4 linked regions of the Homo sapiens genome follow. The protein of the gene in region 4 purifies or fractionates together with the protein of the main gene of each other region. This does not show direct contact. Each region holds a gene or a part of one and is shown on either strand. Other genes may lie near its edges.

Evidence for each region. The genes of interacting proteins can lie anywhere in the genome.
Region 1: the proteins of SAE1 (region 4) and XPNPEP3 purify together in Homo sapiens (affinity purification with mass spectrometry, with the first as the bait; one large-scale study listed by BioGRID). This does not show direct contact.
Region 2: the proteins of SAE1 (region 4) and SLC25A4 purify together in Homo sapiens (affinity purification with mass spectrometry, with the first as the bait; one large-scale study listed by BioGRID). This does not show direct contact.
Region 3: the proteins of SAE1 (region 4) and RACGAP1 purify together in Homo sapiens (affinity purification with mass spectrometry, with the first as the bait; one large-scale study listed by BioGRID). This does not show direct contact.

Annotation. Positions count from the first base shown.
Region 1 is NC_000022.11:40,880,973-40,884,814, reverse strand, and holds part of XPNPEP3 (xaa-Pro aminopeptidase 3), read right to left. Parts: intron 3,046-3,842; coding exon 2,638-3,045; intron 1-2,637. UniProt on the Homo sapiens protein: Catalyzes the removal of a penultimate prolyl residue from the N-termini of peptides, such as Leu-Pro-Ala. Also shows low activity towards peptides with Ala or Ser at the P1 position.
Region 2 is NC_000004.12:185,146,091-185,148,740, forward strand, and holds part of SLC25A4 (ADP/ATP translocase 1), read left to right. Parts: intron 1-723; coding exon 724-881; 3' UTR 882-2,650. UniProt on the Homo sapiens protein: ADP:ATP antiporter that mediates import of ADP into the mitochondrial matrix for ATP synthesis, and export of ATP out to fuel the cell.
Region 3 is NC_000012.12:50,001,328-50,005,169, reverse strand, and holds part of RACGAP1 (rac GTPase-activating protein 1), read left to right. Parts: intron 1-865; coding exon 866-935; intron 936-2,869; coding exon 2,870-2,923; intron 2,924-3,842.
Region 4 is NC_000019.10:47,203,507-47,207,348, reverse strand, and holds part of SAE1 (SUMO-activating enzyme subunit 1), read right to left. Parts: intron 3,679-3,842; coding exon 3,609-3,678; intron 1-3,608. UniProt on the Homo sapiens protein: The heterodimer acts as an E1 ligase for SUMO1, SUMO2, SUMO3, and probably SUMO4. It mediates ATP-dependent activation of SUMO proteins followed by formation of a thioester bond between a SUMO protein and a conserved active site cysteine residue on UBA2/SAE2.

The DNA.
Region 1 (3,842 bases), on a different chromosome or scaffold from region 4:
ATCTCAGGCAATCCACCTCCCTTGGCCTCCCGAAGTGCTGGGATTACAGGCGTGAGCCACTGCACCCGGCCAATTGTTGTAATTTTTAAAAAGTAAAACAATCTCTACTACACGTTCAAAGTGTATGAAATCATAGCTCACTTTTTTAAAGGTTTTTAAACCTTTCAATAAATATGATTTTAGCCAGGCACGGTGGCTCACGCCTGTAATCCCAGCACCCTGGGAGGCTGAGGGGGGTGGATCACCTGAGGTCAGGAGTTCGAGACCAGCCTGACTAACATGGTAAAACCTTGTCTCTACTAAAAAAAAACAGAAAAATTCCCCGGGCATGGTGGCGCGTGCCTGTAACCCCAGCTACACGGGAGGCTGAGGCAGGAGAATTACTTGAACCTGGGAGGCAGGAGTTGCAGTGAGCCGAGATGGTGCCATTGCACTCCAGCCTGGGCAAGAGCGAAATTCTGTTTCAAAAAAAAAAAAAAAGGAATGGTGACCGAGAAGTACTTTTGAGAAATTTATTTTACATGAGATTGTAACTATACTGAATTAATAAAACTTAGACAGTAGAACATGACAAGTAGCAACTAATGTAAGAAAAAAGCTAGAAAGAAAATGATTCTATGCCCCACATTTATGTGGATTTTGAAGACATAAGAAAGTTCAATGAATTGAACAGGCTAATTATCTATAAAATGGAAAACATTTCTATAAATAAAAAGAATTTAATCAAATGTATTAGAACTTACATATTCAAATGAGTATTTTCTTCCAAAAGAGGCTTTACAGGAAACAGTCTAATATATTTTATGATTGTGAAAAACATTTTTGGAATTCTCTTTTAGAAGCTAACTTCAGATATGATTTGTAACCCATGTAAGAAAAATCAAACAAAAACTTTATAATTATACATTATCTTGACCTAAAATCAGTATTTTTAAACTTGAGCATCTATCTTATTTTCCAAATAAGATACTTCAAAAAATAAAATACTTCCCAGAGCTAAAGTTTTTTAAGAATTACTAAAGATAGTTTATAATGTGGTGTAGGTTCTGAAAAAATTCCCAGAAGAAAAATCTCAAAACATTCGGATTGATTAAAATTTCACCAGAATAACTGTAGAGAAAGTAATTTCTTTGAGGGACAAGAACTCAACTATGGCCAGGCACGGTGCCTCACACCTGTAATCCCAGCACTTCAGGAGGCTGAGGTGGGAGGCTCACTTGAGGCCAGGAGTTCAAAACCAGCCTAGGCAACAAAGTGAAACTCCATCTCTACAAAAAAATAAAAAAAAATTAGCCAGACATAGTGGTGTGCCCAGGTAGTCCCAGTATTCTGGAGGCTGAGGCAGGAAGACTGCTTGAGCTTTGGGGTTCGAGGTTGCAGTGAGCCATGAGTGTGCCACTATACCTACATCCCAACCTGGGTGACAGAGTGAGACCCTGCCTAAAAAAAAACAAAAAAAGAACTCAACTGTATATGAACCACAAAAGATCTGTTAAAATGCAGATTCTGATTCAGTAGATAGGGGATGGAGGCCTGAGATTTTAATTTCTATTACATATTATGCATTTTTAATTTTAATATGCATTACCAGGTGATTCTGATGCTGTGATGCATGGATCGTTCTTGGAGAACAGTACCTCCTTTTGAAGAGCTGGCAAGAGCACTAAGATAAGAAGTAGTTGTCAAATATCAAGAAGCTGGTCAGTAATCTTGAAGAGTGGTCCATGCCCATCCTGTCCTTAATTTATTTATTTTTTGGAGATGGGGTCTCACTACGTTGTGCAGTCTGGACCTGAACTCCTGGCCTCAAGCGATCCTTCTACCTCAGCCTCTCCAGTAGCTGGACTACAGACGTACACCACTGTGTCTGGCTTATCCTTTGCTTTAAAAGAAAATTCTCTGTGAGATTTCAAACTAGGATAGGTAACAGTCTCCATTAATGAATAATCCAGTGAACATGGAGTTTTTTTTTAATTGAAATGTTCTAAAATTCATTGTGGTGATGGTTGCACAATTCTATGACTATACCAAAAACTCTTAAATTATATACTTTCATTTTATTATTTTTTTTGAGATGGAGTCTTGCTCTGTCGCCTAGGCTGGAGTGCAGTGGCGGGATCTTAGCTCACTGGCTCACTGTAACCTCCTGCAAATGAATAAATGAATCTTTTTTTTTTTTTAAGACAGTCTTGCTTTGTTGCCTAGGCTGGAATGCAGTGGCATGATCTCGGATCACTGCAACCTCCACCTCCCGGGCTCAAGTGATTCTCCTGCCTGAGCCACCTGAGTAGCTGGGATTACAGGCGCCTGCGACCATGCCTGGCTAATTTTTCTATTTTTAGTAGAGACGGGGTTTCGCCATGTTGGCCAGGTTGGTCTTGAACTCCTGGCCACAAGGAACCTGTCTGCCTCGGCCTCCCAAAGTGCTGGGATTACGGGCGTGAGCCAATGCACCAGGCATAAATGAAATCTTTAAAGAAGCTCAATCTTCTGAAAAAGACTTTACATTTCTTTCATGGTGCTCATGGTCTTTTCATGGTGGTGCTACGATAACAAAATTAAGGACTTGTCTAAACAGGCAAGAAAGGTTTTAATCCCAATCTGGTTTGTAATGTGACTTCTGCTCCCATTTGTTACCTTTCATTTTTGGTAGAAGATGTTGAAATTCTTCTAGCGTATAGGCTTCGTCTACTCCAGTTAGAGCTATTGCTCCATCAGTGCCAGATCGCGGACCATCCCAAAGTTCTCGACTGGGATCTCGCCGAGGCACAAAAAGTATGGCTTTGTGTGATGGTAATTGTTTGCCAGGGAGGCTCTGAAGGACAAGAATGCTATCAGGCTCTTGGAATCCACATAGGTACAGGAAATTGTTGTCTTGGTGGAAAGTATAGGGAATATCGTTGCTCATGTAGTATGTAGGGTTGGAGAGCACAACCACTGTCTGGTCTGTCCCACTCTGCCCTTGAGCTTCCTTCTGGATCAGAGACATTAGTTTGTGTCTGCGAAGTGCATATTCCACCTGAGATAGTCCTGGAGTTACCTCCCCTAGAAATGACAAATAAAAGGGATGCTTTACATTTCTGCAGTGCCAAAGTACTTAAGGTAGTTTAATATTAGATGGAAATACTCAAGTCCAATTGTTCAATTTATGCCAAATCTCCTCACAGCACATGGAGAATTAAGGAGATAACCAGGTTTCAAACTTGTATTCCACTGCAAAAATTTGGAAGAAATGATAGTTGAATGTGGCCCCGCCTGAAATCTGGAATCATGGACCCCTTAGATCTCTTCCAGGTCTTTGGCTCATTCTTTTACTCACTCAGTTATATTCATTGAATATAATTTTTTTTTTTTTTTTGAGACAGAGTTTCGCTCTTGTTGCCCAGGCTGGAGTGCAGTGGCATGATCTCGGCTCACTGAAACCTCTGCCTCTCAGGCTCAAGCAATTCTCCCACTTCAGCCTCCCGACTAGCTGAGGTGGTTCACGCCTGAAATCCCAGCACTTTGGGAGGCCAAGGCAGGCAGATCACCTGAGGTCAGGAGTTCAAGACCAGCCCGGCCAACATGGTAAAACCTCATCTCTACTAAAAAAAACACAAAAATTAGCCATGTGTGGTGGTGCATGCCTGTAATCCCAGCTACTCGGGAGCCTGAGGCAGGAGAATCGCTTGAACCTGGGAGGTGGAGGTTGCAGTGAGCCAAGATCCCGCCACTGCACTCCAGTCTACGCGACAAAGCAAGACTCCATCTCAAAATAATAATAATAAAGTATATAATTCAAGAGTTTTTGGTATGTCACATAATTGTGCAACCATCACCACAATGCATTTTAAAACATTTCA
Region 2 (2,650 bases), on a different chromosome or scaffold from region 4:
ATTAGAGATGATAAGAACATGAATAGTAAGACATTTAGATGTGAATTTAACTAGGTATCCAGCATTATAGAGACCCTAGGCCCTCTTCCCTTAGAGCCTGGGTGCAAAAGCTAGGGAAAAGAAGTAGTTAGCTACTTCTTACAAAGAACTCTTGCTTCCCTCCTAGTTACAGGTGTTAGTGGGATGGGGTGTTTAGCTGGGTAGAGATGGCCTGAAGCAATCTGTTGTGCCAGAGAAAGTTTTGGCTTCTATAGGTTGAACCATACGAAATTGCCACTTTAAAAGTCAAAAACAGTCCAATGTTAGCAGTTTCGTATGTTTCAACGAATAGTTACAGCCTTTTATTTAGACTGCATAACCTCGTGCAGGATCATCTGAGGCTCGGCCTCAGTTCGGTCCTCCATAAAAAAAGGTAACCGCGTAGCATAATACTCCTGCTCCACTGCGCCCTTCTTGTTTCGCAGTTGGGCAGTCCATGAATTACTTGGTTAATTGCCCCAGTTCTTCACTGACCTTGAACTAATGGAGTAGGAATGACAGGAGACCCAGCCTGCCAGTGAAGCAAGGAAGGAGATGTCCAGTGGGATGTTGCATGGAGCTGGGACTCCATGCCCAGATGACCCTGATTTTATAAAACTGGTAACAGTGTGTACAGATATGTTTCAGGGGAAAAGTCTCTTTCCTCCAGCGTTACGGAGCCCTCACCAGCATTTGTTTCCACAGCCGATATTATGTACACGGGGACAGTTGACTGCTGGAGGAAGATTGCAAAAGACGAAGGAGCCAAGGCCTTCTTCAAAGGTGCCTGGTCCAATGTGCTGAGAGGCATGGGCGGTGCTTTTGTATTGGTGTTGTATGATGAGATCAAAAAATATGTCTAATGTAATTAAAACACAAGTTCACAGATTTACAGTGAACTTGATCTACAAGTTCACAGATCCATTGTGTGGTTTAATAGACTATTCCTAGGGGAAGTAAAAAGATCTGGGATAAAACCAGACTGAAAGGAATACCTCAGAAGAGATGCTTCATTGAGTGTTCATTAAACCACACATGTATTTTGTATTTATTTTACATTTAAATTCCCACAGCAAATAGAAAATAATTTATCATACTTGTACAATTAACTGAAGAATTGATAATAACTGAATGTGAAACATCAATAAAGACCACTTAATGCACGCTTTCTATTTTATTGAACTCTTATTAACTGTAAAATGCATTTTTAAAAGATCAAAAATGCATATTTTCTAGCATGATTCATGTATCAGTCAGCAGCCAAGCTTCTAAATGCCAGATATTATATTGAGAATGTATTATATGAGAACGTACAATGCTTAAAGTTCCGGTTTTCAAACTTAGGCAGGTCATATTCTATCTATCTTATCCAGCATTACTGTAGGCTAGAAAGTGATAATGGCTTTCATAATCCTGCCTTGTCTTAGGCACTTTCCTGCAGTCTTTAGAAATTCTAAGATTCTGCTAAAAGTTTTAAATCACAATCTGGAGAATTTTCTATGATTAGGAAGTGCTCTGTTTTCATCCCTTTAGATAACTGTGACACCTAGAATTTTATGTTAAGTAGAGAGTATTCATTGAAAATCAAGGCCAGGTGCAGTGGCTCACACCTGTCACCCCAGCACTTTGGGAGGCAGAGGTGGGCGTATCACTTCAGGCCAGGAGTTTGAGACCAGCCTGGCCAACCGAGCGAAACCCCATCTCTAATAAAAATACAAAAAATTAGCTGGGTGTGGTGGCGCACACCTGTAATCCCAACTACTCAGGAGGCTGAGGCATCAGAATCACTTGAACCCGAGAGGCAGAGGTTGCAGTGAGCTGAGATGGCATGCCACCACATCCATCCTAAGCGACAGGGCAAGACTCTGTCTCAAAAAAAAAAAAAAGAAAGAAAATCAGTTGTCTTAGTTTAAGCTACTATAACAAGGTACTGTAGACTGATGGCTTATAAGCAACAGAAACTTATTTCTCAGTTCTGTAGTCTGGAGGTCCAAGATCAAGGTGACACTGTGGTCAGGTTCTGATGAGGGCCCTCTTCTGGGTTATAAACTACGGACTTCTTGTATCCTTACATGGCAGAAAGAGCGACAGAGCTCTCTGTAGTCCCTTTTATAAGCTCACTAATCCCATTCATGAGGGCCCTACCCTCATGACCCAATTACCTCCCAAATGCCCCTCCTCCAAACACCACCACTTTGGGGGTTAAGATTTCAACAGATGAATTTTGAAGGGACACAAACATTCAGTCCATAGCATCACTTATCAAGCTAGTATTTAATACCTCTTAGGCCCCGTGGAAGGGAAAATAGATAGGAACCTGCCCTGAAAGATGCTTCAGTTGGGGAGAAAAGGTGAAATTCCATTGTTAGACAATTTGTTTAAGACAATACATCTTGCTTGAGAAGGAATAGAAGGGAAATGAAATGGGGGGAGGGAGTGGTAGGAGATGGAGGCTTTGAAAGAAAATAACCAGATTTAGAAACATGGGTATAGAAAGCATCCTCCAGTACTTCTGTAACAATTTATCAAGACCTACAGGAAGTCAGTTTTGGATTTGCTCCTCCGAGATTTGCGAGCCAGAGGAAAATACTTAGACTATCAGGTTGGAAAGTTCACACTTGGACCAGGAAAA
Region 3 (3,842 bases), on a different chromosome or scaffold from region 4:
TTCTAGAATGTGTGCTGAAAAAAGCAGAAAAAGATTTTGTGGGGAGAGTAGGTGGGGAATAAAGGCACAGGGATGTCCCTGTATATTTTATTTTATTTTATTTTTAAATCTTTCCTAAGGATGTTGTTTCACCATGGATACAATTTTGATGTTGGTGCTAAATTGCACATCAATAACTAATCCTGTGCATTGCTAAGAAACCCAAAGGTGAAAGTGGCAGTTCAGCAATACTTTCAGTGTTTACTCTCCAGAGAGCTCTTACAGCTCTTCTGGTTTAGAAAGGCCTCTGTGAGCCAAGACCAGACAATAATTTTGGTTCCACTGCACCACTGTTTAAAATAGTCTCAACCAGGCTTTGAATTTAACATCCCCAGTACAATATGTAGGGAAAGGTCAGCTATTTATTTTGTTGCCTGGTTGTTTTATGGGGAATCTTTATAACTAAGAAGATGTACAGGCTTAATTTCTTAAAAAGTCAGTGTTGGGTAATACTCTTGTTTGTAGAAACCAGCACAGTTGGGATCAAATTAAACTTCATTCCCTTGATTTTGTGAATTTGGAGTAGCCTGTAATACAAACTCGGTAGAGAATAGCACCCATAACCCTGACTAACTTTCAACTGCCCTTATAAGGTCTTTGCTGAAAAAGCAACTGTGTTGCACCTGTACTCATGCACACACACTCCTCCGTGGAAACCATACAAAGTAGCCTACCACAGGGTTTGAGATTGTAATTGTCTCTATAGTGAAGATTTTGCTATGAAATTAACTGATGTTACCTGACCAGTAGGACTTGTTCTGAATGTTGGTGAATTTTACATTCCACAGTCTACCATGTCTAACGTTGTATTGTTTCACTGATCTAGACTATCAACCATTGATGAATCTGGTTCCATTTTATCAGATATCAGCTTTGACAAGACTGATGAATCACTGGTAATAAACATTTGATCTCTGAGAATTACCTACTTTTCTTACCTCTGCTTCCCCAGGAATATCTCTCCTGTCTTCTCTTCTGAACATCCTATATTACTATTTTATTAGTTGATGTGTTATAGATTCTGAGCTAGCAATTTAAAATATAAATCCACATGAGCTATAAGAGGCTGGCTTATATATTAGTTTCTGAAGTGAGAATATATAATTCAGAATTTGGCATAAGTTGAGTTCATTTAATAGATCTCTGTGTGCCACATGTACTAACTGATTATATTTTGACTTATTAAAGCCCCAGCTAATAATAAAAATATTAGCAAGACTGTATGTCGTCAGGGTTTATTTGCTGCTCTTAAATAGACTTGTGCCTTATTTCTGAATTAGTTTGGTTCTTGGGGAAAGCATAGTCATACTTCACAATTAGAAGGAAACCAAGGTCCTGGGATTTCAGCCAGAAAAGTGTGATTAGAGTTTCTAGGCACTATATAATGCTTTCATCAACAATGGTTAACATGTTAAACTATTTGTTGCCCTGCTTTTATGGGGCGGCACACTTCTTTTAACTTACAGTGATGCTTCTGCATAAAAGGTCATCTCCTGATACAGTCTTTGATATAGTTCATTGATTTGTGCATCTTTTCTGTTACTAGCTGAAAACTAGCAAACAAAACAAATCAGGAAGTTTTTGGTGACTGGTTTTCTGGTATAGCAAAACAGGTGACAACTATTTGTTACATGGCTAGGAGTTTTCTGTTCAGATTCAGTGTTTGACCAGGGAAAATACGGCCATTTTATAGATAAAAATATTAGGCATCACCTTTCTCAAATAGGGAATGATATAGTGGAGGTCTGGAATATATAATAAAACTAGATCATATTATCAGTTGATTTTTGAGCTAGACCTATGATACGATATTTCTTGTAACTGAAGCTGAATCAAACAACCAGTAACTAAATTACTGGACCATGACTTGGGGAAGTTAAATTTATTTAGCTAAGCTATTATTTGCTGTATACCACTGTTTCTAGATACTGTTTTCAGGGATGATCAGGAGTAAGGAAATCACAGGTAACTACTAAAATGAATGCAAATAGTTAAAATAGGTGAATTGAAATGAGACCACAATAAAAGACAAATAGTTCTTCAGTGGTGGACACGTTTTAGGGCCTAAGTTCCTAAACTGTAGAACTTTTTTTTTTTTTTTTTTTTTGAGACAGAGTCTCACTCTGTCACCCAGGCTAGAATGCAGTGGCGCAATCTCAGCTCACTGCAAGCTCCGCCTCCCGGGTTTATGCCATTCTCCTGCCTCAGCCTCCAGAGTAGCTGGGACTGCAGGCGCCCGCCACCACGCCTGGCTAATTTTTTTGTATTTTTTTAGTAGAGACGGGGTTTCACCGTGTTAGCCAGGATGGTCTCGATATCCTGACCTCATGATCCGCCCACCTTGGCCTCTCAAAGTGCTGGGATTACAGGCATGAGCCATCGCCTGGCAACTGTGGAACTTGTGAAGTGGCAATATTATGCAGAGCATTTGATTAGACAGTGGCAATCCCTTGGGGGCAAGAATCACATCTAATACAATCAGTATAGTGCCTAACATTCTGTAAGTTCTAAAACTAATTACAAAAATAATCAGAAATAAAGGATCAGCCACTGGAAATATGGCAGAATTTGATTCTTTAACCTCTTCTTGCCTCTGTGGTATTGATTCCTGATTTTATTATAATAGCTTCAATTTTTCAAAGAAAGCACATTAACTTACTATAGCTCTATAGCTACAACACTTGAGACCTTCCCTTCTCTAACCCTCCCCGAATTGTACGTTAGGTAGCCTGACTGAAGAAGCCTTTAAAGTTCTCTGTAAATTTATTTGCACAGGGTTTAGGGATGGCCTAACCAAAAAAAGAAATTAATACAGTGTAATTGTCAACAGGATTGGGACTCTTCTTTGGTGAAGACTTTCAAACTGAAGAAGAGAGAAAAGAGGGTATGTATGATTTGTTTAGTCTTTTTTTAAAACAAAGTAATAATGGAGTTATTTTTGGAAATTTTGCCATGATACTGCATTCCTGTCATGTTGCTCTAGCCATTGTTAAGCACATACTACAGATGAATTCATGCTGTGGGGACAGTATTGATATTCTTTTTTTTTTTTTTTTTTCTTTTTTTTGAGACGGAGTTTTGCTCATTTCCCAGGCTGGAGTGCAATGGCGCGATCTCGGCTGAACGCAACGTCCGCCTCCCGGGTTCAAGCAATTCTCCTGCGTCGGCCTCCCAAGCAGCTGGGATACAGGTGCCTGCCACCATGCCTGGCTAATTTTTGTATTTTTAGTAGAAACGGGGTTTCACCATGTTGGCCAGGCTGGTCTTGAACTCCTGACCTCAGGTGATCCACCTGCCTCGGCCTCCCAAAGTGCTGGGATTACAGGCGTGAGCCACTGCTCCCAACCAGTACTGGTACTCTTTGAAGTAGTAACTTAGGACAGAATCCTGTCCATTTCACTGTTTAGGCTGCATTTCAATTCATTCATACAGTGGAAAAGGATAAACTTAAGTTTGTTTTGAATTGTCATATGAATTTTTACACAGAACTTTTGTGCTCTAATATAAGCTTCATATAATGGGATATATAGAGATCTATCTGTGTATGCTTGTTTAGGGTACTTAATGTGTTTCCAAGACTTCATGTCCTTAGTTAGGATTACAGCTGTACTTTTTCTGGTGGTGTCATCTAAATTTCTCCATAGCTTGCTCATTTTTTCTAGGGCACTGAGAGCATTTTTGTACAACATATTCTTTTGAAACAGCTTATTCTTCATGTGGAAATAGGCAAAGAGAGAGAGAGAGAGAACACATTGTTTGTTATTTACTGTAGCCCTAATCCCCAGGACCTGTATCCAAGTTGT
Region 4 (3,842 bases):
AAACCCTTTTCCTCATCCATAAAACAGGGACAATCACATCTACCATATACAAATAGTGTTAGTCAGCCATTTTTCCAGGGAAATTTTATTTATTTGTAAATGTTTTTAATTTTTTGAGATAGGATCTTGTTCTGCTACCCAGGTGGGAGGCACATTCTCGGCTTACTGCAACCTCCGTCTCCCCAGCTCCAGATATCCTCCCATACCCTCTTGAGTAGCTGGGACTTTTGTAGAGATGAGGTCTCCTCATGTTGCCCAAGCTAGTCTTGAACTTCTAGGTTCAAGCAATCCTCCCAAAGTGCTGGAATTACAGGCATGAGCTACTGCACCCAGTCAAGGGAACATTTATTAAGCATCTACTCTATGCCAGGTATTCAGCTAGACATTAAGGATTCTGAGGTCTCTGTCCACATGGAGCTTGGATCAGAAAGAAGTTTGCTTCTCTGGGCAAATAGGCAAATAAAAAGCACCTGCCTGCTAGAGTTTTGGTGAGAATGAAATGTGACTAGGCTTGTAAAGTGCCGAGCACGTAGTAAATTCTTAGTAAGTAGGAGCTGCTATTAATAATAATAGGGCCAGGAGTCCTTTACCAATACTGGGGATGCCACCAACCTAGCCAGGTGGAAGGGTCCAACAGTACACAGGTGGAACTCTTAGACCCTCAAACCCAAGATACAGGAGATGGTATGTGTTTTACCATGAACCTGGGATGGCTGCTGCTTTCACTATCACCTCTCTTACCATAGACAGGGAGACCTGCCGTGGACGGTGGGGATGGAGAGAAAGGAAAACTGCTTTAAACCCAAGGAAGTAGACATGGATATAAAATAGGGTATCTAGAAGGACGTAAGAAAGGAAAGACGCAAAAGATGATTCCAAAGGAGCAGACTTGCGCTTGACCCATCTCCTAGTGTAAGCTTTCCATAGGCGCTCAGACAGTGCCTCAGGAGAGAAAGGTGAGTCTGAGGCCCTTGGACTGCAGGCCCCGCCTGCCAGCTGGCTGAAGGCTGACCAGTAATAAGTATGAAGGAGTACTGGGGATGAGAGCAGGGCATGGGGTGACATGGGGCAAAAGGTAAAGTGCTTCCCAAGCAAGATGGGGTAGGAGGAGATTCCAAACACACCCAGCAACGAAGAATGCAGAGTACTCTGGCTATCTGGGATAAACAGAAACAAGATGCTGGGCACCAGCTGTCTCCAGCAGGCAGGAAGGAGGGGGCTGTGTGAGGATGGGGATGTGAGAAACTACCACCAACAATGGGGTCAAGGCTACCTGCCCCAACCTCCAGTCTCCATCCCACATGAAAAATTTAGGGGGAGCCCCTCAATGGGATGTGCAGAAGTAAGGCTGACAATGCAAGGGCAGCGGCCCTGGGGTCCATGCAGTCTCTACATGATGGTGCCATTGAAGGCAACACCTGATGCATGACTGCCCCGTGGTGAAGAGGACAGGCTCAGAAACCAGACTGCCTGGGCCCACATCCTGGCACCACACTCACTAGCCTGGGCAAGCATCTTCTTTCCTGCACCTTAGTCTCTCTTTTATAAACCAGGGATCACAGGAGTTCCTACCTCATAGGGCCGGTGGGAGATGAAATGAGTATCCACGTAAAAAACACTGTCTTTGTGTGGCAGACAGTGGGCTTTCAGTAAGTCTTGTCTATTATTGGTGGTGTCGTCATTTTAGGCTACAAAAATATGTACATTCCCATTCCCCACTTAGAACATTCCCATTGCTGCACTCTTTCCTGCAGTTTGTCTACAGGGAGCCTCAGAATCCTGCTCGAACAGTCCTCTGGGTGGCCATTACCCTCTTCTCAGATTGGGCATATAAACTGTAATTTTCACATCACTCTGGGCTATGTATAAAATGTGAGCAAGGAAAGAGGTATGGCCATTGCACACTTTTCTTCCCCCTCCAAATATCTCCTCGGTGCCCATTACATAGAAGAAAGTTAGATTTGATCAAAGGAAGAATTTAGACCAGAGAGAAGGATCAGAAAAAATAGACAAAAAAAAAAAAAAAAAGTAGCCTTAGGAAAACGGTGTGACTAACAAATTGAGCCAAACGCCTCCAGAATGTACAGACCCCAAGACAAAGTGTTAAGGGCTGGCCTCCAAACTGTCCTCCCAAGCTCAAACTTGACATGTACATGGACATGGCCAATCATTTAACCAGGCACGACTCTGCTCCATAAGAAAGAAGGAAAAAGCCTCACCGGAGTCCACGAAGGCAGCCAAGAACCTGCAAAAGGCAAATTTAACATCTTCGGGCAAATAGCAAAGTCTGCAAAGAATGTACAATATATTTGGGGGTATGGTATAGTTTTAGCAACCCAAATGTTCCAGAAGACCCTCAAAAGGCTGTGCTAGTTACTGGTTATGTGACCCTGTATAAGATGCTTCCCTTCTGAGAGACACACTAACACCTACCTAACAGGGTCACGGGTCATCCTGTACAGAGCCTTGAGGGGCTCCTGGTGTGTTCATGGGGACACAGAAACTGATTTCTCTACAAATACCTACAGTGTGTGGTTAAAAAGACGGGGGCTTGGCCGGGTGCGGTGGCTCACACCTATAATCCCAGCACTTTGGGAGGCTGAGGTGGGAGGATCACAAGGTCAGGAGTTCGAGACCAGCCTGGCCAATATGGTGAACTACTAAAAATACAAAAATTAGCCTGGTGTGGTGGTGGGAACCTGTACTCTCAGCTGCTCGGGAGGCTGAGGCAGGAGAATCGCTTGAACCCAGGAGGCGGAGGTTGCAGTGAGTCAAGATCATGCCACTGCACTCCAGTCTGAGAGACAAAGTGAGATTCTGTCTCAAAAAAAAAAAAAAAGGGGGGGGGTGCGGCTGGGTACAGTGGCTCATGCCTGTAATCCCAGCACTTTGAGAGGCTGAGGTGGGCAGATCACGATGTCAGGAGATCCAGACCATCCTGGCTAACACAGTGAAACCCTGTCTCTACTAAAAATACAAAAAAATTAGCTGGGCGTGGTGGCAGGCGCCTGTAGTCCCAGCTACTTGGAAGGCTAAGGTAGGAGAATGGCGTGAACCCGGGAGGTGGAGCTTGCAGTGATCTGAGATCGTGCTACTGCACTCCAGCCTGGGGGACAGAGCGAGACTCCATCTCAAAAAAAAAAAAAAAAAAAAAAAAAAAAGGGAGGGCTTTGATGTCATGGTGATGAATAGAGATAAACTGTACAGAGGTTAAGAGCACAGGTTCTGGAGTCCCTTTCATGGGCCCAAGTGTCTTCCTCTTAAGTGGGGATCATGATAGTACTCACTTATAGAGCTATGAGAAGCAGAATCCCTGACCAATACAACAGGCACTGGATAACTAATACAGTTAGGGGAGAGCAGATCACACCTTCGAGGCACTATGGCCAACTGTGAGCTAAGCACAGAGCAGGCACTCCAAGGTCATTTGCTGAATGGCACCTGGATGGGCCAGAGAAAATGGGATGAGGTGGAAATGGGGAGGGCATGAAACAAAGATGAATGGGGTGAGAGAAAGCAGGCAGCTGTCTAAGACAGTTTCCATTCTCTCTGTCAGCACATATACAAAGTCATGGTTAACAATTTTCTGCTCCACAGTGATGTTTTACCTTCACAATTTCCTGTGCCAAAATCCCTCCAACCACCGCACACACTGGGGCCATCTCGGAGAAGCAGTACCTAAAAGAGAGGAAGACAAGGAAAATGGAGCACTGGGAACAGAACTGTGACCATGACATCTGGAGAAATTCAGTAGTAGGCTCTCCTGAATAAAAACAACTTCTAGCAGGAGGGCCCGATTCAGATAGCAGTGTTAATGCTGGCATCTAGGCGTGAAAATGAAA